Homo sapiens: one gene and its partners. The protein of the gene in region 6 purifies or fractionates together with the protein of the main gene of each other region. This does not show direct contact. Each region holds a gene or a part of one and is shown on either strand. Other genes may lie near its edges.

What was found.
Region 1: the proteins of DHX15 (region 6) and NOP58 fractionate together in Homo sapiens (co-fractionation; 2 studies listed by BioGRID). This does not show direct contact.
Region 2: the proteins of DHX15 (region 6) and AHCY fractionate together in Homo sapiens (co-fractionation; 2 studies listed by BioGRID). This does not show direct contact.
Region 3: the proteins of DHX15 (region 6) and USP3 fractionate together in Homo sapiens (co-fractionation; one large-scale study listed by BioGRID). This does not show direct contact.
Region 4: the proteins of DHX15 (region 6) and SRSF11 fractionate together in Homo sapiens (co-fractionation; one large-scale study listed by BioGRID). This does not show direct contact.
Region 5: the proteins of DHX15 (region 6) and PCDHA2 fractionate together in Homo sapiens (co-fractionation; one large-scale study listed by BioGRID). This does not show direct contact.
Region 7: the proteins of DHX15 (region 6) and CSDE1 fractionate together in Homo sapiens (co-fractionation; one large-scale study listed by BioGRID). This does not show direct contact.

The regions. Positions count from the first base shown.
Region 1 is NC_000002.12:202,272,263-202,275,762, reverse strand, and holds part of NOP58 (nucleolar protein 58), read right to left. Parts: intron 651-3,500; coding exon 574-650; intron 1-573. UniProt on the Homo sapiens protein: Required for the biogenesis of box C/D snoRNAs such as U3, U8 and U14 snoRNAs. Part of the small subunit (SSU) processome, first precursor of the small eukaryotic ribosomal subunit.
Region 2 is NC_000020.11:34,289,856-34,293,355, forward strand, and holds part of AHCY (adenosylhomocysteinase), read right to left. Parts: intron 2,653-3,500; coding exon 2,503-2,652; intron 1,677-2,502; coding exon 1,564-1,676; intron 1,084-1,563; coding exon 876-1,083; intron 784-875; coding exon 696-783; intron 595-695; coding exon 477-594; intron 1-476. UniProt on the Homo sapiens protein: Catalyzes the hydrolysis of S-adenosyl-L-homocysteine to form adenosine and homocysteine. Binds copper ions.
Region 3 is NC_000015.10:63,511,093-63,514,592, reverse strand, and holds part of USP3 (ubiquitin carboxyl-terminal hydrolase 3), read right to left. Parts: intron 2,618-3,500; exon of another isoform or gene 1-2,617. UniProt on the Homo sapiens protein: Deubiquitinase that plays a role in several cellular processes including transcriptional regulation, cell cycle progression or innate immunity.
Region 4 is NC_000001.11:70,224,380-70,227,879, forward strand, and holds part of SRSF11 (serine/arginine-rich splicing factor 11), read left to right. Parts: intron 1-3,500. UniProt on the Homo sapiens protein: May function in pre-mRNA splicing.
Region 5 is NC_000005.10:140,793,558-140,797,651, reverse strand, and holds the start of PCDHA2 (protocadherin alpha-2 isoform 1 precursor), read right to left. Parts: upstream 2,801-4,094; 5' UTR 2,688-2,800; coding exon 300-2,687; coding exon of another isoform or gene 213-299; exon of another isoform or gene 175-212; intron 1-174. UniProt on the Homo sapiens protein: Potential calcium-dependent cell-adhesion protein. May be involved in the establishment and maintenance of specific neuronal connections in the brain.
Region 6 is NC_000004.12:24,539,555-24,543,054, forward strand, and holds part of DHX15 (ATP-dependent RNA helicase DHX15), read right to left. Parts: intron 3,473-3,500; coding exon 3,386-3,472; intron 2,469-3,385; coding exon 2,319-2,468; intron 1,395-2,318; coding exon 1,286-1,394; intron 746-1,285; coding exon 554-745; intron 1-553.
Region 7 is NC_000001.11:114,755,185-114,759,471, reverse strand, and holds the start of CSDE1 (cold shock domain-containing protein E1), read left to right. Parts: upstream 1-1,487; 5' UTR 1,488-1,547; intron 1,548-4,287. UniProt on the Homo sapiens protein: RNA-binding protein involved in translationally coupled mRNA turnover.

The DNA of each region.
Region 1 (3,500 bases), on a different chromosome or scaffold from region 6:
CAGGAGGCGGAGGTTGCAGTGAGCAGAGATTGCGCCATTGTACTCCAGCCTAGGTGACAGAACAAGACTCTGTCTCAAAAAACAAACAAAAAAACCAAAGATTTAACATCTACACTAAGAATGAATCTTCCATGAAATTGTGATGAAAGAAAAAGTAGTTCATGCTAGTTTTGATGTTGCAAAACTCAAAAAGCAGGTTACAACCCCTGTGTGCGGTAAGTGCTTAGTTAAGATAAAAAAGGTATTACATTTGTGTGTGGAAGACACGAAGACAAATGTGTTCCTACTGACAGCAATCACATTTGGTACTATCCGAGGTTTAAAGTATCCACAGGGTCTTCTGGAACATAATCCCTGTGGGTAAGGGGGAGACTACTGCCTTCAAATTAATTGAGATGGCCTATATTCCAAGTAAAACATTTGTAATAATTAGGTTCATACCAAAATTATTCCTGAAACAGATTTCAAAACAGAAAACTACGAATGTAACATTATATAAATCAGGGAAAAATGTAAAAAATAAAACAAGCCCTAAATGTTAACTGCTAAATTATTGATTTCAAGAGTACTTACATTTTGTTTGCTTTCTCTGGAGTTTCAAATTCTTTCCATAAACTATCAACCTCTTGAAGTTTCTTCTCATTTAGAACCTGTAATAAAATGTTTAAATAGTTTTATTTAAATGGTACAGGTGAGGCATATACAGCTGCATTCTTCAAATACAATTTTACATGTAAAATGAAGGTGTAGAAGCTATTTCTTTCACTAAGATAATGAACTAGTTTTCTTACCCTGCATGTAATTTTGGTCAAATTACTAGTTCGAATTGCCCATTTAACAGCTAAATGGAATTCAGATCTAGTCCAGTCAGCTGTAGTACAGTGGCTATTCAGTCTAGAATCTACCTGGCCTCAAGAGATATTCCTGCCCCAGCCTTGGGCCGTAGCTGGAGCTATGGGGTCCTAGGGGGTAGGGCAGGGAACCTTTCTTTTTATTTTTTTGAGATGGAGTCTCGCTCTGTAGCCCAGCCTGGAGTGCAGTGGAGCAATCCTGGCTCACTGCAACCTTCACCTCCTGGGTTTATGAGATTCTAGTGCCTCGGCCTCCTGAGTAGCTGGGATTACAGGTGTGCACCACTGCACCTGGCCGAGAACCTTTCTTTTAAAAGAGCCATTAATCCCTTTACAGTAAAGTATTGTAATCATTAAAAACTTTAATTTGCGCCAAGCATGGTGGCTCACATCTGTAATCCCAGCACTTTGGGAGGCTGAGGCAGGCGGATCACCTGAGGTCAGGAGTTCAAGACCAGCCTGATCAACATGGAGAAACCCCGTCTCTACAAAAAAAAAAAAAAAAAAAAAATACAAAATTAGCTGGGCGTGGTGGCACATGCCTGTAATCCCCGCCACTCGGGAGGCTGAGGCAGGAGAATTGCTTGAACCCGGAGGCAGAGGTTGCAGTGAGCCGAGATTGCGCGACTGCACTCCAACCTGGGCAACAAGAGCAAAAAACTCCATCTCAAAAAAATAAAACAAAAAACAAAAAAAACTTTTGTCTACTTTCAATAGATTATATTCGTTATTTACTGCTATGATCATCCTAACATGAAAGTATTATGGATTTCTCTAAAACTATCGTCAATTGTGAGACACATCTAGATGTGAGAAATTTTTTAAATGCAAAAGAAACATAGGGTACTTTAATCAACAATATACTTATCAACATTTAGGTATATATTCTCCAAGACTTTGAATGTCTGTGCAACACATGTTCATGCATACTTTTAGGAATCACAGTAAATGGCTTTTTTTTTTTTTTTCTGAGATGGAGTCTCACTCTGTCGCCAGGCTGGAGTGCAGTGGCGCAATCTCGGCACACTGCAGCCTCCGCCTCCCGGGTTCAAGCGATTCTCCTGCCTCAGTCTCCTGAATAGCTGGGATTACAGGCACGCACCACAACACCCAACTAGTTTTTGTATTTTTAGTAGAGACTGGGTTTCACCAAGTTGGCCAGGCTGGTCTTGAACTCCTGACATCAGGTGATCCACCTGCCTCGGCCTCCCAAAGCGTTGGGATTACAGGCGTGAGCCAACACACCCAGCCGCCTTGTATTGTTTTGAAGCAAGACCTAGACATTTAATTTTTACCTGTTAATATTTCAGTTTGTATCTATAAAATATAAAGACTTGTTTTAAAACTAGTACTGTTGTAACAACAATGCTAAAGATTGCAATGGTAATAGTTGTATACTATTTCTACTTAGAAATGGAAATTATCTTAAAATGATAAAACTTAAAATGGATTTCTGTATACAAATATTTATCATTACCCTGGCTGAAAAGAAATGATTAAAAATTTGAGACAAATAAAAACTTTGAGACAAATGTAATACAGAAAATGTAGCAATATCTCTAACTTTCTTATTTAGATGGTCTTTATTAGCAATGTTTTCTTCAAGATGTTGCAGTTGGGAACACAATGGTTTTATTTGTCATAGTAATGGTTTTGGCTGACATAACATAGTCTTTGAAGACCTTTGTGTGCTCATGAATTGCCCTGATTTTATCACATTTCCTTTGTTATTTTAACTTCAGTTTTAGAATGGTGATAGTATTTTTTAATTAATTTATTTATTTATTGAGACGGAGTCTCGCTCTGTCGCCCAGGCTGGAGTGCAATGGCAGGATCTCGGCTCACTGCAAGCTCCACCTCCTGGGTTCACGTCATTCTCCTGCCTCAGCCTCCAGGACTACAGGCGCCTGCCACCACACCTGGCTAATTTTTTGTATTTTTAGTAGAGATGGGGTTTCACCGTGTTAGCCAGGATAGTCTCGATCTCCTGACCTCATGATGCACCCACCTCGGCCTCCCAAAGTGTTGGGATTACAGGCGTGAGCCACCCCGCCAGGCCGAAAGTATCTTTTAAATATGGCAATTTTGTTACCCAAATGTTATCTTCAAATATACTTGCTTTTCAGCTAGAAAAAATGTGAATTTTACTCATGAGTCATATCCCCTATTTGATACATGTCCTCTTAAAAATAGTGAACTTCAGTTATGGTTAGCTGCATTCTCTGAACAATTTCAAAAAATTTTAATCAGTGTTTTCAGTATAGTCATGAGACTTGGTGAGGTGTCTCTGGATTCTAAAACTTCATGATATACAAAGTTAGAGCTATTAGTTTATAAATTGTTAATACCAACTCTAGGCTTTGTAGTTGTTTATTGCTTTGTGTGACTCTAAGTTTTTCTAGTTTGGGTTATTTTTACCAACATATCTAATTCAACCATGTGTGATTAAATTTATACAGGCTGGGCACGGTGGCTCATGCCTGTAATCCCAGCACTCTGGGAGGCTGAGGCGGGCGAATCACGAGGTCAGGAGATCGAGACCATCCTAGCTAACACGGTGAAACCCCGCCTCTAACTAAAAATACAAAAAAATTAGCTGGGCGAGGTGGAAGGCGCCTGTAGTTCCAGCTACTCGGGAGGCTGAGGCAA
Region 2 (3,500 bases), on a different chromosome or scaffold from region 6:
GGTGATCCGCCCATCTCGGCCTTCCAAAGTGCTGGGATTACAGGTGTGAGCCACCATGCCCGGCCAAAGCTGTGTCCTTTGTTACTCTGCCTCCATCCTGACCCCACATGCCGTCCATCCACCCCAGCACTCCCTAAGCTGAGGCTGCCATCATCCCCTGCAGGGATTCTACGAGCCTCCTCTAAAAGCCTCTCTCCCCACCACCCGCCATTGTTGCTTTTATTCTGCACACAGTAGCTAGAGTGATCTTTCTAAAACTACAGCCTCACCACATACAGCTCACCTGCCTGATACCTTCAGGGATGCCGGCTGCCCACAGGATAAGGTTGCCACGTCTGGCTGGCTCTGATGCTAGGCCCTCTTCTCCCCATCCCCCTGCACAGGTTGCCACCATCTCCTCAGCTCTCCTCCCTGGCAGCCAGCACTCCTCTGCACTCCCATCTGCCCAGCCCACTGGCAAGGCGGGAGCTTCTCACCTGCGGCTTGATGTTCACCTTCTCCACGGCGTTCTCGTTGAGCCACTTGACATCGATCTCCACGTCAAAGTGTCCAATGTTACACACAATGGCATCATCCTTCATCTGCTCAAAGTGCCTGTCAGGCAGCCCAAGACCGTGGGAGATTGTCAGGGACAGAAAGCTGTCCCAACTCTGCCCTCCTCCCTCACTCCCCGGGACCCCCCATCTGGCACCTACCGGCCAAGGATGATGTCAATACAGCCTGTGGTGGTGACAAAGATGTTGCCCTCCTGACAGGCCTCATCCATGGTGGTCACCTCATAGCCTGTGCAGAGACAGTGGCTGTGGGTCATCTACGGTGGCCTTGCCCCTCCCTCTGGCCCCAGTGGCTGACAACCAACCCTTGCCCTATCCTACCCTCCATGGCAGCCTGCAGTGCGTTGATGGGGTCAATCTCGGTGATGATGACGCGGGCTCCGAAACCCCGCAGGGCCTGGGCACAGCCCTTGCCCACATCACCATAGCCTGCTACCACCGCTACCTTGCCGGCAATCATCACATCTGTGGCCCGCTTGATGCCATCTATGAGGGACTCCCGGCAGCCATAGAGGTTGTCAAACTTGCTCTGAAAGGAAAGGGGGTAAGGAGACAATAGGGGCAGGCAAGGCCCTGGGGCCAGGACAACTTGGCCTCAGAGTATTCTGAAGAGCCCAGGCATCATGGGCCCACCAAGCATCCCGGCCTGGGCTGAACCCCTCCAGCACCCAATGCCCCCACAAGCCCTTCACCCCGATCGGCTCAAAGAGCTTCTCTCTAATCTTTCTCTGCCAGTGTGGAGCCTTCCTAGGCATCAGTTACTAGGAGAGATTGCCCGGTCAAAGACCTTGCTTAACTTGAAAGCTCTTCTTCCCAAAGCCATAAAGCTCCTAACACCCAGCTCTGACACCCCTTTTAAACGCACTCATTAGCCTGTCTATAACCGCTTTTGCCCCCTCAAATGAGGGCTTCATGTCCCTAATCTCAGCCTTCCTGGGCACTCTTCTTCAGAGGCCTCGTCCTGAGCTGCAGCCACTGTAGCGGGAGCTGTCACTGCCCCTCGGCTCACCTTGGTGACGGAGTCATTGACATTGATGGCAGGCACCTTGAGGATCCCATTGGCCATCATCTTGTAGAGGTTGTGGACCCCAGTCGTGGTCTCCTCAGAGATGCCTCGGATGCCTAAACAAGAGGGGACAGGACAAGCCTCAGAGATGCCACACCTGTGCTCATGCAAATTCCTCATCTTTACCCCCTAAAGCCATTCCTCTTTCTGGGTTCCCATCTCTGTGACTGATCCCACAGGCCCCCCAATCACCCAGACCCGCGTGAGGGAGGAGTCCCCAACGCCCTCCTACAGGGAAGCCACCACCAGGCCTAGTGACTCTGCCTCCGAACAACTCCCAGCTTCTCTATTCTCACTGCCGCTGCTCTAGTCCGTGACCCTGTCGCTTCTTCCCAGTCTCCCTACCACAACCCATCCTCCATGCAGCAGCCATTTCTAACATGTATCTTCTCAGAGAAATCTTCTCAACGCCCTCCAGTTATTTCCCCTTGCTCTGCAAATCAGGTCAAACACTTTTCTATTGGCCTATTAGGCCCTGACACATCTGGTCTTCACGAAGTTCACACCATACCCGCAGTGAAGGCTCCCTTTGCTCACTGCTATCCTGTGGGCCTCTTTTCTGTTTCCTGAACACTCCAGCCATTCCTGCCTCAGGGCCTCTGCACTCTGCGTACCTGCTTTGAACAAAGCTGGCTCCCTCCCAGCTATTCCCAACCATGGCCCTGTCTGTGCCTGCCCTTGGGCCATCAGCTCAGCTGCCCTAGCCTCGCACCCTCAGAAGTCAGGAGGCCCCAGCATGAATGCCAGAGCCTGCCATCCTCCCATCTTCCAGATCCTGCTGCTTGAGGTGATGGGAGTCCTGCCAGGCCTGCGGCCATCATGTGGGCAAACAGGCCCCACCCAGGCCACCAGCACCCAGCCCACCTGCCCCGCCCTGCTCACCTGGCAGAAGCTGCGGGTACTTGGTGTGGATGAGGTTGGTGAGGTCGCCCCCGTCGTCCAGAATCATGTTGAGGGGCCCGTCCTTGAAGTACAGGGTCTGCTCAATGCACCACAGGTACTCCTCGTCCGTTTCGCCCTTCCAGGCATACACTGGAGGGTGAGTGGCACATCAGGGCCTGGACTTCCCAACTGGTACCTGCTCCAGGGAACAACTCTGGCAGAGCCAAAACTACCTCCTTCCCAACTCCCATCCCCAGCCACCTCCGGCCCCTCTGAAAACTCAGCAGTGGTCAGGACACAACTTGGAGCCAGATAGATCTGAGTTCAAACCCTGGCTCTGCCACTTGCCAGCTGTGTGACCTTGGGCAAATCACTTCACCTCTCTGAGCCTCAGTCTTCTCCTCTGTAAATAGGGCTCACAATAGTATGGATTAAGTGAGACAGAAGCCATGTACAGCCCCCCGCCCCAGATATAGATATCAGGAAATCATTCTTTCCTTTCCCATCCCCTTCTGCCTGGGCGCCAAGGACTGAGGCATCAACCCTGAGTGACCAGGGCTTGATACCCCACAACGCCTCCCCCTCAGCAGGATCCACACGGCAGGATCCAGGGTTTGCTCTGCACTGAAAGGACTGGAGCACTAGCAGCCTCTGTGTGGGGGAATCTCAGGCAAAGTCTGGCCAAAAAATGACTACGAGCAGCTACCATGTGTGGGGTACTTGCTTTCTGCCAGACATGACTCTAAATCCTCCATACCCCATCTCATTCTTCCTCATAGAAACCCTGTGAGGCAGCCATGACCATTATCATCACTTACAGATGCCCAGAGAGGAGCTAAGACGCACTTGGGCCACTCTAAATGAAATTCCAGAATAGACACCAGAACTGAGGGCTACTGACCACCAGCCCACACTCCTCCCATGTGGCATGACTAGGGCACAGGTGTGGGGTTCCCAGGAGCCTCTTGTGAGCAAAGGACGCTGGCCAAGCAGAGCCA
Region 3 (3,500 bases), on a different chromosome or scaffold from region 6:
ATAAAGGTTAACACTAAAGTACAAAGTGGAGGGGGAAAAAGTACCACACTTGTACTTACTGGGAAACTCTTTATTCTTTTAAAATCAACGGGACTTATTTTGAAGAAATAGAAAAAAGAAATACAAACTTGGCAAATACGTATACTCTGCCCGAGGGATAGATAATCAATATTTCAGAAAACAGGCACCTGCAAACTCCAAAACCATTAACTATTTCAGTTTTTCTAAATAGCTGTTCTAATTATTTAACCAAAACCAAGAGTCGGAATTTTTTTTTACAATCGATAGAATTTTCAAACATGACCCACATTTTCCCAAAAATCTGTATTATATATTCGAAGAAAAAAACTAGAAATACATATATTTTTTAAATGAGGCTCTAAAAAAAACTATATATAAACAAAACATTCAAAGCAAATAAAATGAAACTAACGCATTTAAGCTCTCAGAATTAAATTCTCATGGCACGAATGTTGAGGTCTGGCAGCTACTTCATACACTTAAGGTGAAGTCTGATCCTTCAGTTTTTATAAAGCAATTTCTCCAATGCTAAAGCATCTCACTATTAATATCCAAAATAATTCACATGGAAATAAGAGTTAATCTTAATGAAACCAAAGAACATTTTACTGTGTGCAACTAAAATTAAAATTTGCTCAACCAGCAATTTGTACCATTGTTGCTCCCACAGTCTCTATATTATACAGTTATTTTTTAAATGCCTAATATAGTAGAACATTTTTCTAACATGTCATCCATCGATTATCTCAGGGAAACATTCCAAGTCAGAAATTTGTTTTCTAGAAATTTCAACTTGATATTCAAAAACTTTAATCAAAATATTACTCCGGCATTGTGCAACAAATGTTCAAAACAAAGTAATGAACAATTTAAATCTATTATTTAAAAAAGAAAACCCACCCAGACTGGTGGCTCATATCTGTAATCCCAGCACTTTGGGAGGCTGAGGTGGAAAGATCACTCAGAGTCAGAAGTTCAAGACCTGGGTAACATCGAGACCCTATCTCTACAAAAAAATTTAAAAATTAGCTGAGCGTGGTGGCACATGCCTGGAGTCCCAGCTACTTGGGAGGCTGAAGTGGAAGGATCACTTAAGCCCGCGAGTTCCAGGCTGTAACGAGCTATGACTGCACCACTGCACTCCAGACTGGGTGACAGAGTGAGACTCCATTTCCAAAAAATAAATAAATAAGCAAAAATAAAAACCTGAGCTTGGTCATCAAGGACAAAGATTTAAAGAAGGTAGAACAATAACTGTACTTTCTTATAATCAGTTAAATTAAACCTGCGGGAATATGACAGTTAATTTCCAGCCTGCTTTTTCTGGTGATGAGGCAGTACAAGAACAGTCCATAAAATTAAGTGTCTTCAGGGTGGGTGAAGGATAAACAGGCCAACAATTTCTACAAAGAAGGCTGTCTTAAACCCAGCTAGAACAAAGAAAAAATAACAGGAGAAAACTTCTACTCAAGAATGGAAACAGCTCACACTGATAGAGCTACTGGATTCTAAAGCAGAGTACAAAGTCTCCAAATAAAATCTAGTTGGTTACAATATCTTTGATATAACCTGGCTTATCTTAAAAATAAACTCACAATTCCCTCTTCAAAGGGTCTTATAAAATTATATTAGCTAGTATTTATTAATTGTGAAGCATCTAACTAATGCAAACACTTAAGACAACTGCAAATTTGATTTTTCAATGTTCAAGTTTAATTTCAACAGTTTTCAAAATCTGAAATTGCCTTCCTAAATTCATCTGCATTGTATACATCCATAAAGAGCACACACTGAAAAGATACACTTCCTTGTATCTTAAGAAAGGGGGAGGCCTGGTGCAGTGGCTCACACCTGTAATCCCAGTATTTTGGGAGGCCGAGGCAGGTGGATCACAAGGTCAGGAGTTCAAGACCAGCCTGGCCAACACAGTGAAACCCCGTCTCTACTAAAAACACAAAAATTAGCCAGGCATGGTGGTGGCTGCCTGTAATTCCAACTACTTGGGAGGCTGAAGCAGGAGAATCACTTGAACCTGGGAGTGGAGGTTTCGGTGAGCTGAGATCGTGCCACTGCACTCCAGCCTGGCCAAAGAGTGAGATTCCGAAGAAGAAGAAAGAAGAAAGAAAAAGAAGGAAGAAAGAAGAAAGAAAAAGAAAGAAGAAAGAAGAAGAAGGAAGAAAGAAGAAAAAGAAAGAAGAAAGAAGAAAGAAGAAGAAGAGGAAGAGGAGGAAGAGGAGGAAGAGGAAGAAGAGGAAGAAGAAGAAGAGGAGGAAGAAGAAGAGGAAGAAGAGGAAGAAGAAGAAGAGGGGAAATCTGTTTTAAGATCTGCAGTTACTGGCTAGGCACGGAGGCTCACACATGTAATCCCAGCACTTTGGGAGGCCAAGGCAGGAGGATCACGAGGTCAGGAATTTGAGTGAAACCCTGACTCTACTAAAGATACAAAAAATTAGCCGGGTATGGTGGTGTGCGTCTGTAATCCCAGCCACTCAGGAGGCTGAGGCAAAGAATTACTTGAGCCCGAGAGGCGGAGGTTGCAGTGAGACAAGATCGTGCCATCACACTCCAGCCTGGGGAACAGGGTGAGACTCCATCTCAAAAAAAAAAAAAAAAAAAAAGATCTGCAGTTACTAGTTTTAGTTTTTATGGTCTAAAGACTATAACTTTTACAGGAAATACAATTGGAAAATCTTAGAATAACTAAATGGAATCAACAAAGTATACTGACTAAAAGCAAAGATTTCAAATAATCTCTGAGCTACCAGAAGCAAATGCAAAATTCTATACCTTAAGAATTCTCTCCTTCCTCCACCCTACAACAAACCACCTCCAAGAAGAATCTTCTCTAACAGAAACAAAATGAAAAAATAAGGGGGGTGGAGAGACTTCAATAACTGAAACCCATTTTAAAAATAACCAAAAGCTAATTGCATTTTATCCATAGCTATAGTGAGGAGGCTGGTTTATTATGTCTGAACTAATGCAATATGAATTTCGGCCTATAAAAATATTAGATCTGAGTATAACAAGGTTGACATTTAAAATAGTTGTTTCTTCCAAACTATATCACCAATTCCTTGTTCCAACTTGCCAGCACTTTCAATATTAAATTGGGTGAGGGGGGTAACAAAAGACCAAATTTTAAAATAAGTAATTTTTGAGATGTGGAACTTAAAATATATTTTCATATCAAAAATCTTCAAAGGAATTATTTAAAGTATGTGTTCCAAACATTTTGTATTTTTTAAATTGTCAAGCATTAAGTTACTGAATAACAAAATAAAGACTCTTTTTTTTTTTTTTTTAAGAAAAAGCAAGCTAAAAGTCTGAACAGTGTTAGAGTTTAAGCTTTGGGCTATCTTTAATACTCCCCAAGCATCTTGGGCAACTCGTAACCTTTGTCTCAGTTTCATAATCAATAAAATAGGAAAAACTACAAGGATGAATAATTAATTAAATTAGTCAGGATTAAATGCTAG
Region 4 (3,500 bases), on a different chromosome or scaffold from region 6:
CACCCTATGTAAAATAAAGCACCTCTGCTGCTGCTTTATTCTCCTTAACACTACTTTTTTTCTATAGCACCTGTCACCAGTTGACAGGTTAAGTTTAACAACTTCTCTCCTGTAGAATATGAGGTGCTTTAAAATACATGTATGACTGAACCTCACCCACACCTACTGAAGCTCTTCATTTCGGTTCTGAATGCCTATTTTGGGGAAACATTTCTGGGATTATGACAGACATTTCAATGACAACCTGCTCTAGGAGGTTTCCTGCATTGTCATTGTTAAGTCCATCTATTTATTCCTTCTTTTAAACCAGAATTTCTGGCCTGTAATTTTACTGAGAAATAGAAATACTATCTTTACAATAGGTGATATTCTAACTGTCTCTACAGCATGATGGCTTTGCAGGTATTTGAAAGTTGAACCCCACATATACTCTTTGTTAAACTGTTATTTTGATTCTGGTTGTTTCTGAAATGCGTACTGGAAATGCAGCATTGTTTGAATATCTATTGTGTGTGAGTTGCTTTCTAAATGTACCTTAATCCTTACAAACCTGGAGGAAAAAAATGTTTTTGACCCTGTTTTACAAGTTCGTGAACTGAAATTTACATAGGTATTTTTTGTATGCCCAAGCCATACTGCCAATGTCAGAACTAGAACTTGAACCCAAGTTGTGACTCTCCTTTACCACTTGATCAGGAGTTTGCTGATTTAGCCAAGTAACTTGTAAGATCTTCACATGCTTTCTTTTAGTGGGATTGCCCAGCAAAGTGCTTATCAGGTGATGATCCCAGTGAAGTATGTCACAGTTATGCAGTAACTTAAGGCTGCTGTAATACGGAGATACATTGAAGTTCATTAGTAACTTTTCAGTGACCCAAAATGGATACTTTAATGGTTATATAAGTATAAATTAGTATATTAGGTAAGGGAAAGAGTTTAGTGCACCTTTAAAGAAAAAATGGTTTTAATTGATGCACCATTTTATTGTATATTTCTTTACATAGTGAGAAGGGGGCACATGAGGTCAGCAGTCAAGTTTTCAGGTTAATGTCGTCTTTGTCACACACCTCCTTTTGTGGGTTGGCGATACTTTTATTTATGAGCTCGAAATTCTCCACTTAGCACACTATTAAGGTGGAAATTGGAAGGCTGATATCAGTGGCCTAAACCTGAAGTTCTCGTACGTTAGTAGGCATGAATACCTTGTTAAGAATCTGGGCCTTCATGTAAAAAAGATTCTCTACAGACCCTTAGGTGAACAACGGAAATCTCAGGTTTTCTCTCTGTAGTCTAGAAGATTCTGAAATAGCCCTCAGAGGACACGTAAGAACTGTTAAAAACTACACCACCGCTCTTAGTTGGAGGACAGAAGTGGCATGCAGGACTCACTTTACCCTATCTTGTTCCTCATTTCTCCCTACTTTATATTAATTCTAAAGAGATACGGAGTAAAATATGTGTCGTATTTGGAAGCAGTACTTCCACAGAATTTTAGAGCACAAAAATTAATTTCAGGCATCAGTCCTCTATCTTATATTAACATATTATCTTATTAAGATAAATTTTATTAGGAGGCTGAGGCGGGTGGATCACCTGAGGTCAGGAGTTCAAGACCAGCCTGACTAACATGGTGAAACCCCATCTCTGCTAAAAATAGAAAAATTAGCCGGACGTGGTGGCGTGTGCGTGTAATCCCAGCTACTTGGGAGGCTGAGGCAGGAGAATCGCTTGAACCTGGGAGGTGGAGGTTGCGGTGAGCCGAGATCGTGCCATTGCGCTCCAGCCTGAGCAACAAGAGTGAAACTCCATCTCAAAAAAAAAAAAATTTTAATCGAAAAAATGTTAAGAATGTAATTGTGGGCCCAGATACCATCAAAAACTTGTTTTAAACCCATCTAAAGGAGGCCATTTGAAGTGGAGAGAGATGAAATTATATTTCTTATTCACAGTATTCAAATTCATATTTAATCTGTACCCTACCATCACTTAACAGGTTTTGATATAGCCAAAATAATTGGAGCATTCCTATGCCATTAATGAGTAGGAAAAAAAATATGAGTCACTTTAAGGTTGCCAAGTATAAAGAATACAATTTGAGCACGGGGGCAGTACTTTTTTTCCTAAAGAACTATTTATTAAAAATATCATATTTGGGAGTCATTTCTTTTAATAAGATAACAATAAAAAGTGTTAAAAGAATTGGTAGAGGTCAGTTTTAAGAAGTGTTAAGTGCTTGCTATTTCCCAGGGCATTGTGTTGGGTGTTAATAATATAAGATGATAGCATTAAAAGAGCTTTGTAATTTATTGATGGAAACATGGATGTCAGCAAAGAAATGTGAAGTGCCATAGCTTACTAAACCTGCTAAAGTACTTGACAGTGAGGCACACCTGCAGCCCCATCTATTGGGGAAGCTGGAGTGGGAGGCTGGGTAACATAGTAAGACCCCTCCCATTTCTTTAAGGAGAAATTGCTTAAACATTCTTTTTACTACTGCGGGTGCAACATTGTTAAATTTTATAGCAGCAGTGTTTCACATCTAAAAACCACTGTATTCTTTAAGAAACATTCAACAGTAAGCCTGTATAACAAGGTGGCTTAACTTGCTTGTGGATATCCTGTTAATTTTGCTTTGAACTTGGGTTAGGGTCTGTGTTTAGCCTGAGAGGTCCTTGTAGGGAAGCTTGTATCAGAAGTTCTAATGGGTTTGAGTTCTCAGGCCATATATAGCATCATGTTAGTGTTTGAGTTGTGATAAAAATTATGGGGTTTTTTGTTAGGCCTAAATTAAAAGAAATTATTTTTCTTTTCAACAATGAATCTGAAATTCTTAGTATAACCAAATCTGATGCATTTACAATTTTATGTACACATTGGTGTGTTTCATTTTTTAGAAACTGTGAAGCCTCATTCAGATAGTATTAAAATACAGGATTTTCCTTTTCATTAATGAGTCCTATGATGTAAGTGTTATATTGATGTTAAAATGAAGTAGTTTTGTACCCTGGGTGCATAAAATTGTCAGAGAGAATTAAAGGAGAAAGAACTCAAACTTCATCAGAGATCTTGATTTAATTCATGTGAAGAGTGTGGATTACCCCCAACCCCCAACCCCATGACTCTAATACACATTAGAGTGTATTAACTAGGGATGGTGTGTTTATTTCTGCCTTAGGGCACTAGCTTTCCAAATAACTTTTGGTATGGGCTTGAGCCATCCCTGTATTCATGCACAGAGTTTCAAGGCAGAAATTTGAGCTACCCTGTAACTTAACAGTTGAAAAAAACCCTGCTTCCTGTGTTATCTGTCTTACTTACACTGCCATAGCTTGCAGTTTAGCACTTGTCTTTCTTTTACCTAAGGAAGTAATTTGTTGAGGGAACTAGCCCTTTTGCTTATTGAAACTTTGCAGGGTGGCACTAGTGGAACGTAGTACTACTCCCATGTGTGCCTACATTTTTTCTTTTATCTGAAAGTGCTCCAAGCCAGAAATCCTTGA
Region 5 (4,094 bases), on a different chromosome or scaffold from region 6:
TTATGGGAAATGTTTAATTTACAAATTTTGCTGAGGTGTTTTTCAGTGTTTCATGGTCTATTACTTATGACTTAATGATGGAAGTGCCAAAATGTAAAAATAAGAAAACAGTTATGTAGATTGTTTAAATAAATTGTTCAGTAAATGCAATAAATTGATCTCTAATTCATATTCAAAATCGCACGGTAGGATGATATAAAATAAATGAAGAACTATGAATCTAAATAACTAGTAGAAATCATATAGAATTTTTTAAAAAGAACAATTTTAGAATTGGCAAGAAAAAGTAAAAGACTCACCTTTCCTACGTATTCTGATTCTGAGAGCTGTTTCTCTTCTGCGGAGTCTGGACCTTGAGATAAGCTAGGGCTGAAGGCCATGAGGTCCGTCTTGGGGGGGTCCTCCCCAGAGCACACCCTCTGCCGCCTCTGCTGCGAGTAAGACCAGCTCCCCACGGCGCTGGAGCACACCAGCGTGGGCTTTCCTGGCGCGCGCGCACCCTCGGTGGGTGGCACCGAGCACCGCAGCGCAGTGTACAGCAGCACCGTGAGCACCAACAGGCTGGATACCGCGCAGATGGCGATGATCAGGTACACGTTGACATCCACCAGCGTAGCCTCTGAGCCCGCGGCGCCCACCCACGCCCGCGACGAGGCCTTGGGTGCCTGGCCACTTTCCACCAACGACACTAACACGGTGGCCGTGGCTGTCAACGCTGGTTCGCCGTGGTCCTTCACCAGCACGAGTAGGCGGTGTCGAGGGGAGTCAGCCTCGTCTAGGGCACGTGTCGTGCTGATCTCACCCGTGTATAGCCCCACGCGGAACGGGATGCGAGCGCTGCCAGTACCCAGCTGAAGCTCGTACGAAAGCCACGCGTTGTAGCCTGAGTCAGCGTCCACTGCGCGCACCTTCGCCACCACGTGCCCTGCACCCACCGACCACGGCACCAGCTCACTCACTGCGCCAGCAGCGGTGCCAGCCCTAGGCGCCAACAGTGCCGGCGCGTTGTCGTTCTCGTCCAGCACGAACACCTGCAGCGTCACGTTGCTGCCCAGAGGCGGCACGCCCGCATCCCGCGCGCTCACCTGGAACTGCAGCAGCTCCACTTCCTCGTGGTCCAGCGGCTGCAGCGCGTACACCTTGCCGCTCTCCGCGTGCACCGAAACGTAGCTCGACAACGCGCGCTCGCCCACCCGCCGCTCCACCAGCGAGTAGGACACCAGCGCGTTCTCCTGCGCGTCCGCATCCCACGCTGACACCGTGAAGATGTGGCAGCCCGGCGGGTTGTTCTCCTTCACGAATACTGTGTACTCAGGCTGTGCGAACGCCGGCGCGTTGTCGTTCACGTCGGCCACCTCGATGGACACGCTGGTGGTGGCCCACAGTGAAGGCGAGCCCCCGTCCCGTGCGGTCACCACCAGCTCATAGGCTGACACGCTCTCGCGGTCCAGGGCGCTGTCCAGCACCAACGAGTAGTAATTCTTGAAGGTGGACACCAGCTTGAAAGGGACGTGGGGCGTCAGGGAGCAGGTGACATGTCCATTCGTACCAGAGTCGCGATCCGACACCGTGATGAGAGCAATGACAGTGCCCAGGGAAGCGTTCTCTGAGATGGGAAGTGAGAGAGACGTTATTGAGACTTCTGGTGTGTTATCATTGATGTCCACAAGTTTTAATGAAATTTTACAATGTCCTGACATTGAAGGGGTTCCTTTGTCAGTTGCAGTGACCTGAATCTCGTAGGACTTTGCTTCTTCATAATCTAATTTTCCCTTAGTTCTGATTTCCCCTGAGATGGGATCTATGGTAAACTTAGTCTGTATAGTGGAGGACACATCACTACCGAGTGAATACACAATCTCGCTGTTCGGTCCTTCATCTGCATCAGAAGCGTTTAACTTAACCACTAAGGTCCCATTTGCCGTATTCTCTAACAATTTTACTTTGTAAACTGATTGGGCAAAAGTTGGTTCATTGTCATTTACATCTAATACCTTAATAAGTATTTGAACGGTGCCCGTGAGCTCAGGTTTGCCCCCATCAGTAGCCACCAGTAACAAATTAACCTCAGCAGTTTCCTCTCTGTCCAGCGATTTCCCCAGCACGAGAGACAAAGATTCGCTTAGTTCATCATTTGCCTGTATATCTAGGAAGAAAAACTCACTGGAGCTGAGCTTGTAGGAGAGAAGAGCATTTACTCCTATATCTGCATCAGATGCTCCCTCTAGAGGAAACCGAGAATCAAGCAGCCTTGATTCGGGAAACCGGATAGTCTTTACTGTCATTGGAAATATTGGCGGGTTGTCGTTAATGTCCTTCACCTCCACTTCCACATGGAAAACCTGCAGCGGCCTGTCCACGATCACCTCCACGTGGATGCTACATTCCGCGCTCCGCCCGCACAGCTCCTCCCGGTCGATCCGAGAATTCACAAACAAAATGCCATTCTGCAGATTTACCTCCAGAAGGTCCCCGTGTCTTTTGGACGCCACCCGGAACAGGCGCGGCACCAGCTCCTCCAGCTCCAGCCCCAGGTCCTGCGCGATGCGGCCCACGAAGGTGCCGTGTTTGGCCTCCTCGGGGACGGAGTAGCGGAGCTGGCCGCTCCCCACCTCCCAGGCTGCGAGGAGCAGAAGCGAGAGCAGCCGTGTCCAGGCCCCTCGGCCCCTTCTGATAGAAGACGCCATTACCAATCCTCAATGTTTTGATCAAATTAGAAGAGCATGTTTTGCAAAAATTTAAATATTCTAGTCTCTGTTAAAGTCCTGCTGCTTCTCTTATTCCTCCGCTTCTCTGAAGTAACAAAGGGGCTCTGGGTATTTTCCTTCCTAGAGAACACTCTATGGTGGACAGCGACATCATGTGGCTAAAAGGAAGGCTCTACTGTTTATTCTGTAGATTTAAAACTAGTCGATTTTCTGGTTTAAGTTTACTCATAGCTTTCATCTTGGAAAAAAATAACTATTTTAAGCCCTAAAATATATTACCTTTTTACCCTTTTTTACTCTGGTTAAAAAACACACAACATAATATTTAAAATTACCATATTAACTATGATTAAATGTACATTTCAGTAATGTTAAGTATATTCACATTGTTACAAATTTTTCATCTTGGAAAACAGAAACTCTATACCCATTAGACAACAACTCCGCTTTTCACCGTCACTCCAGTCTCTGGTAACCACAGTCCTATTTTCTATTTCTATGAATTTCACTACTTTAGATATTTCGTGTAAGTGGACTCGTAAAGTATTTGTCTTTTTGTGACTGGCCTATTTCACTTAGCACAATGTCCTCAAGGTTCATCCATGTTGTAGCATGTGACAAGATTTATTTCCTTTTTAAGGCTGAATACTAGTCCATCGTATGTATACACCACGTTTTGTTTATTCATTCAAGCATCCGTGGATGGTTCCTCAAGGTTCATCCATATTGTAACATGTGACAGGACTTCTTTCCTTTTTAAGGCTGAATAATAGTCCAACATATGTATACACCACGTTTTGTTTATTCATTCAAGTATTCGTGGACATTTGAGTTGCTTCCATTTCTTGACTGTTGTGAACAGTGCTGCCATGAACATGGGTGTGCATATATTTCTTTGAGACCCTGCTTTCAATTCTTTTGGATATATTAGCATTTTTCACTATTTCTTCAAATGAAGAACATAGTAATCAAAGGTATTTTAGTCCATTGAAAATATATGTGTATATATACTGTTGTTTTGTGATTTAATTTTGATTTTTGAATTGTTTGCAAATGTTTTGAAATTAATAATTTATTTGTTTCTCATTTGGATAATGTACTATTACTTTAGAATATTCCTTTTCCATTACATTTAGACTTTTATGCAAGAACAATACAATCGATCTCTTTTTTTGTGTTAATTACTTGAGAATATCTTCTTTTGTTAATTTTTAGCTGATCCCTTCACAGTAAAAAAATGAAAATAGAATAAAGATAAGATGAGGATGAAATAAAATGAATCAAGGAGTGGGATAGCATACAAAATCCATAATAAAGGGTCACCTTCAGTTACTCTAACCATGTCACCAATTTTGTTTTCAGCTTCCTAGAGCAAAGAGAGAAGTA
Region 6 (3,500 bases):
CTACCATTGTAAAAGAATACCATTATCAGATTAGATTTTAAGCCTAAAATTATACATTACTATTTCTATTTACTTGATATGAAGTTTGAAATTCATGTTTGTTCGGGTGCCATTGGAGTACATATATAGAAAAGGCTCAACTTAATGTATAGCTTTCAGTTTGTCACAGGCACACTTAATAGAGCTAAGTACTAGAGCAAAGTTCTTCCTGTACTTGCAGTAAAAAACAAAAAACAAAAAAACCACAAAGATAGCAGTGATGGACCTTTAACCAAAGAATTCAGTTACAACTGTGCTCAAACTTACTGCAATTTTTATTAGCACTCAAGAGAGCCAATGCTTTACTTATCTTTTGTGCACAATGACTTACTTTACTTTTGTAAGCACTATGTCATTACGAAGCTATTTACAAGGTATTTAGAAAACAAAATTAATTCCTTAAAACCATCTATAAAATCCACTATCATACTAAAAATTAAAAAACAAAAACAAAAGTGAAGTCCACCCAAACTTTGAAGAGCTGGGCTTTTTTTTGTTCCTTTCCCTCTATTACCTGACAACATAGCAGTAATAGATAGGACCTCATTAGAACAGTTGTAGTCACAACTTGCAATAACCATTTTTGCGAGCTGTGGATCTAGAGGAAACTCTGCCATCATGGATCCCAATTCAGTCAGATCTCCATCATCATTTAAAGCAGCCAGGTAATTCAAAAGTTCCAGGGCTCTCATCAGAGTTTCAGGAGCTAGTGGTAAAAGACAATCTATTAGACACGGTGCCTTAAGCAAGCAAAAATGTGACAAAGTACAAACTATTATAAGCAATCTCATTTTTCATTTTGCAGTGGACCAAACTCAAACTCAAACTGTCATCCAATTCAATTATACAGATCTAGCAAACAATGAATCATAAAAACATTGCAAAATTTTCCTGTAGGCAAAACTGTCTTCTTCCGAAATACATTAAATAATTGCTAATTCATCAATGTGTTTATCAAACTGTTTTTCCCCAAAGAAAACTTAGGAATTCTCACATTTTCATGCCCAGAGGATAATTCAATTTACCCAAACCCCCCCATAATAACTTTTGAAGAAAAAAAAAAAATGTGCTCATATAACTGTCACCTTTTTTAGTTTTAATGCTATCATGTAAGACTTAATCTTGATGCATACTGGATGGAAAAAGCAAAATGTATTTAATACATATATTAAATAGGATGGAGAAAAACACTAAGAGTCAATTTTGGTTAAAAGATCTGATAAAAATGTGTTTTGATAAGTCATACCTGGTGGATCCATAAAATCAAAATGTACCAAGTCATCAATACCAAGTTTCTTCAATTGTAACACAACTGATCCTAAATTAGAACGCAAAATCTCAGGATAGGTGTTATCCTAGCAAAGAACAAAAACATTTATTGGTTATGTTAAAAATGCCTCAGTCTCCTCGTTCCAGAAAACAAAAATCTGCTGCCTCCTGAGCTATTTGTTTTGGCATTACTTCTACACTGTCTCAGTAGAGATAAATACTTGTAGGCTAGACTAGAGAGAAACCATTTTTCTCCAACTATCTTTATAGTATTCAGTGTTTGCTACTGTCCATAAAACTCGCAACTGCAGAAAGAAATTCGTATAGTAGTCTTCACTCATCTGAACTCGCAATTTCCATGGTTTCAGTTAAGCAGTGTCAACAGAAAAAATTTTAAAGATTCCAGAAAAAATTCATCAAGTTTAAATTGTGCACCATTCTTAGTAGTATGCTATATACACTATACACCCATTTGTCACTTAGCAACCATCTGTTATTAGATCAACTTTTGCAGTATCACAGTGCTTGTGCTCAAGTAACCTTTTACTTAATAATGGCCCCAAAGCGCCAAGAATATTGATGCTGGCAATTTGGATATGCCAATGAGAGGCCCTGAAGTGCTTCCTTTAAGTGAAACGCTGAAAGTTAGTAAGGAAAGAAAAAAAGTTGAAACCTAGTAACAAAAGAGCAAAAAAATCACATCTAAAGAAAGAATGCATCTTCTATCAGTGAAATTGTAAAGAAAGATATTTATACATAGTATATGTAAGTAAGGTTCAGCATATTCCAGTTTTTAGGCGTGGGAGGGGGAGGGTCTTGGAATGTATCAGCCTGGAATAAGGGGGTGTACGACTATCTAAGTTAATTACACCATACATTTCACTCCTGGAAAAGCTAAGGAGCTTTTAATCCTAAAAGGCAAGATTAAGTAAATAAGGCAATGTTCTTCTGGTAAGATAATTCAACCTAACATTTTAAACATATCGGCAGGAAACGACAATACCCCATACCTGCATTTCTGTTTTATAAGCTTTCTCTGTGTAAAGTCTGAAGCATTTTCCAGGTCTGGTACGTCCAGCTCGACCAGCCCTTTGCTGAGCTGAAGCTTTACTAATAGCTGTCACCAAAAGGGACTCAACTCTGATTCGAGGATTGTAGACCTATTGGAATTGAAATAACACAAGAGTCTTTCTTCAGTCAAACACAAAATTGTGATGCAACAGAAGTATCCAAAGCCCACAGTTAATTCCAAAATAAATAAAGAAATATCGATAGCCATAAATCATGCTGCTACAATAGACAACCCACCATCCTGAACCTTAAAGTTCTTTCAGACATTCTAATTCGATCATCTGAAAGACTCTAACATGAAAAACTTCTTGTCAAACACACAGCTTATATAATCCTTACTCCTCCTAATTTCAGTTCTATCAGGCTGACCTTGTTCCTTGCTTTTTATATGCTGGGCAGTCAAGGATTCTGCCCGAAAAGAAACCTTCACTTTCAAAACTCGACGGTCTGAGTACTATTACTCTGTTACTGTTTAATGAAAAAATTTCCATCAATAACAAAATGTAATCAATTTATCCAAAAGATATTTGAAAAATAAAACGTATTTATTGAATAGCCACTTCACCTGCATTTCACTTCATTTAGTATACAGCACTGTTAAACTAGAGGAGTAACATAGTACTGTTTTCAAATAGTGTGCCTAGTTGACAGCAGTAACTCTAATAATGTTGGGAGAAGTGACTGAACTGCAGGGATAGAAATCCTGTACTTTATTACTAAACCCATACTGTTAAATGAATATACAAGCCAAAACACCCACCGTCACTACACTGAAACAAAGAAAGCAAAGCAACTCTAAAAGAAAAAAAAGCCTAGAATTACATATTAAATACTGTCTTAATTTCTGAGAGCCAGCCAAAACATAAAGGGTTCATACAGCAGAAATTTGCAAATAAAAAAAAAGATAGGAAAATAATTCTGAAAGGTAAATTTTAGCCATTAAATGAATTGGTTGTAAGTACTGTTAAACCAACTCTAATTTATAAAGTATCCACTAAATATGTACCTTCTGTTTCGCAAATCCAGGATCAATCACAAACACCACACCATCTATTGTCAAAGACGTCTCTGCTATGTTAGTTGACACAACTACCTGTTAAGAAATAGAGTATATAAATTAT
Region 7 (4,287 bases), on a different chromosome or scaffold from region 6:
ATCTGAAAAAAAAAAAAATTTACATTCTGTAGTTTCCCAGAAATATATTCCAATTTCTAACAACTTATCATACTGTTGTCCAGTGCTATTTATTCAACAAGCTTTTGAGAGTTGTTGAGAGCGGGCACTGTCAACAACCAGGGATGCAAAGATGAATTTCATAAGCTCTGTGCTAGAGTATTACTACCTAGTAAAAACTAATAATTACAATAGAGTGAGCTATGAAAGCATTGAAAATGAAGCAAATATTTGTGCTTAGGAAAGCGTGGGAAGGCATCAAAGAGAGCAAAAAGGCAGTTTTGAGGTGTTATACATGGGACTGGACACCAGCAACAAAGGTGGTGAGGAAATTTTTGAACAGAAATGGGACACGGCCTCCTCTTAGAATTCAAGAGGTTGAATTGAAGGTTGTCTTTCCTTCATTGCACTTATTCCAATGTGTATGTTTAGATTTGTTTTTGTGATCATCAATGATGCTAGACTAAAAGTTCCTTGAGGACAAGTCTATATCCGATTTTCTTTACAACTGTATACTTCCCAGTGGTTACACATACAACATGTCAAATAAATGTGTTGTAAGCAAAAAGTGGGTAGGAGAGTTCTCAGAAGACTGGCTGCTCATTATTTATCCAATACTGTCAAGTGAGAGAGCCAGTGAATCTGTGAAAACAGAAGCATTGAATCTGGGAAAAGCATTCCTCTCACCAGAGGAGCATGCTCTACTGTCTGGCAGGGGATAATCCATTGAACTTCCTGTGGTCATAATTACCCATTTTTCTCCTTCCTTCTTCCCCCATTGGATGAATCATCTCTTTGCTCTTATTTCAACCTTTTAATTACTGATCCACCCTCTTTGATTACCTGACACAACAGGAATATCTTTCGTAACTTGAAAGGTCAGTTGACTGAATTTGTTTCATTTTGTTTAGTGATTATGCAGCCTTGCTCACTCTTGTGCATCTGTTGCAATGTTTTTCGTGGAAAACAAAGGTCTCATTTAGATTTCTAAATTACCTTGCTACAAAGCTGACTCTATACTAATGAAATTCCTCTAAAACAGTAGACGTAAGAAAGAATGCTTGCACTATAAGAAGAAACGAGTGTGAGGTCCTTCCGGATTTTTGCTGGGAAAAGATAAATCATTTTTTATGACTCCTGAATATGCCATCAGAATTGTTGGCCTTCAAGGTTTACCCCATTATTGTGGGCTAAAACGTATTCAAACGCTCGAAGACTAGAGACGCCTAAAGCCACCCGCCACCCCTAGTGTCCAGGAGGAGTCAGTAAACACCGAGATTGCTTCCCGCAGCACACCCAAGAAGGAATGTAATGTAATGCAGCCACCATGTTGGTTGTGGTTAAGTGCAGCAAACTGCTTGGCGTCACTTAGCCCTGCTGCGCAAGCGTGTTGAGAGTACGCTTCACTCCGCCCCTTCTCGTGCACGCGCCCGGAGCCCGCAACTCTCGCGAGAGAAGCGAGATTTATTCCTACGTACCGGGCCGTGCTGCTTATGGCGGCGCTGGAGAGGGGGCGCTGAGCTGTTGGGGTGAGTACGACCTCAGGGTCCAACTGGGGGTAGCAGAAACCCAGGGGAAGGGCTGAGAATAAGACCAAGGCTAACGAGAAGCCTTCTGAGTCAAGGTGGGCACTCGTAGAGCTCTAGGTGGGGAAGAATGCACCCCGATTCCCTGCCCTGGGCTTTTTCATACGTCTCCCGTTCAACTGCCTGGGCCTCATGTCAGGTCGCAGAGCTGAAACGAGGAGTTGAGGCCAGCCGGCTGCGCGTGGTGGTAGTGGTGGTGGTGACTAAAGTGGGGGGAGGGAGCGAAAATGGAGGCTCCGACAGCAGCCAAGATGGAGGCAGAGGGTGCGGGGCTCGGGCGCGGAGGCTGCTGGGATCTGTAGTCTGGCTGCTTCCCCATCTGCGGCTTGTCTGGGGAAACGGGAACTACATGTCCCGGCGGGCGGGGCGAGGGGGTGGTGGCGCGGTCCTTTGTGTGAGGTTGGAAGAGCCTGAGACCGAGAAGAGGGGCCTACTTTGACTCTGGACCCTGTAGTTTCCTGGCCGTTACCTGCTTGGGAATCTGACTACCAGTACCAGAGCGCAGTGCGGCAGTGGCGCCTTCTTTGTGTATAGACTGAGACCCTGCTCCATCTAGATATCTTAGGGGAAGTGTTTAAAGACACCTTTCCCCAGCCACATCTGGCACAGTAGTGTGGCGGAATTGACATCGTTACTCCAGTCACCTAGAGCAGGGTCTCAGCACCCAACCTTCCCCTCATTGTCTCCCCTTCGGCGTCTTGAGAAAGGGAACCAGTCCCTAATCTTTTAGGCACGTGGCTCCCACCCCTCTATCTTGGGGAATGGGCGTGCGCCCTGAAAGCTCAGTAGTGTCCTCCCTTCCACCTCCTGTAGTTCTCATGGTGCCAGCGCCTGGCCCACCCACATTGTGCAATGAACGGCCTGGCTTCGTCATTCTATGTAGAATGTTTTAGAGTTCCCCCGTCGGAGACAGCTTCAAATTTTTGCCATGCTATTTTATCAATACGAAATCTTAGTGCCAAGGTTCTTTTGCTTTAAGGTTTTCCCTTAGAAACACCCAGATGGCGGCCGTCTTGCTTAACTCACAGGTGAAGCAGAGAACGCTCCCTGAAACAGGCTTGAATCTGCAAAGAATATCTGAACGTTGTTGGGCAAGTTAATTTTCGTGTTTTGCACCTTAAATGAGTAAAAGAATATGGCGCTCTTTAAACAGTTGGGAGACAGGGCGGAGAGGGAGAATGCTCAAAGGCACTGTGGTAGTTAAATCTTTTTGAGAGGCTTAAATTTTCATCAGGCTGGTATGAACTGGCAGTTCTCAGCCACTGCTACTAACCTACTTTTTTAGAATGTAGGTTTCAAATTATAGCCCACAGATATAAGCTACTCTATACTAAAATGCTGAGTAATTTTCATTTTGAGTAACTAAAGGCAAACATTCTTGATATTGCATTGAGGAGCACTATAATACATACCTTGGTTTTCTTTTGGTACTAACCAATAATGGATATCCTTGGTGTGGGTAAGGAGGGGCTTTATATACTTCAGTAGGGATATACCTGAGTCATAAAACTTAGATAAATATTTGGCCTTCTTTTTGTTTCGTTTTAGCCCTGGGACTAAAATAAAAGAGAAGGTAATAGTTTGGTTTTGCAGCTGTTCTGGATGTTTACCATCGAGATGATTATTTATAGCAGCTGAGTTGAAAACTAAAGTATTTGAGGCACAGAAGATAGGTTTTCTTTTTTTGTAAGTACTGACTTAAGTGTGACCTTTAGCGAGTGTGGGTGAAAATCTGGTAAAGTCCTAGCAAATCAAAATTGAAAGCGTGAAAGCTGACGTGCAGTCTGGCTTTACCCTCTACCCTTATTTTCCCTTCTCCCCACCTGAAGACACATCGTGTAGGGCCATCGATTTTTGTTTTAAACAAACAAAATGCTAAAATATCAAATTATGCTGGAGCATTCATAACATGAAATTTAGTGTTCCAGTGTTTTTCATTGTACAGTTCAGTGGCACTAAGTCTATTGAAACTGTTGTGAGAGCCATACTTTCGACAAGGTAGTTAAAACATGGAAATTTTGGAACGATGTTCTTTTGGACAGATTTTTGAGGAGTTGAATTTCAGGACTGTATTGCAAAATGAGATAAAAATCTTGATCTTGTTAAGTAAACACAAAGAATTGATGTGCCTTCTTCTTAGCTTTGTCCTTGCAGAAAACAGAAGAGGAAGCACTTTGAGATCTATTTTGTAAGCTTTAATAGCTAGACTGTTGTAAGTGGTGAAACTACTATGGTGAGAGTGACTTGCTGTTAAATCCCTTCTGCCCAGTCAGGATTTTAAAAAGTCCTTTGTTTTGATATTAGAATGTTTTCCACTTGCATGTGTGGGTACCTAGTTAAAAACAACACAAAACTTTTTAATATTTTAATGTCCTTTTATGCTGAGGTAAAACAGTGTGTGGCTGAAAATTATCAGTTTCCCCTATGTTGCACATGTAAGCTATCCGTTGATTTGCAGCTACAGCCGGTACATAACCAGTTATTTGCACTTCTTTTTCTCCAATTTATTAACAACAAGCTTCTATGCTAGATACTGCCTACTTTTATTAGTGAAAATCTTTGCTCAAGACCCTTACATTTACTTCCTGTTGCTAATTGGCACAATAGTGCTTTTTTAGACCCCTGCTCAGTTTATACCTACTCTGTGGAACATGGTAGCCGCCAGCCACGTGTGGCTGTTGTG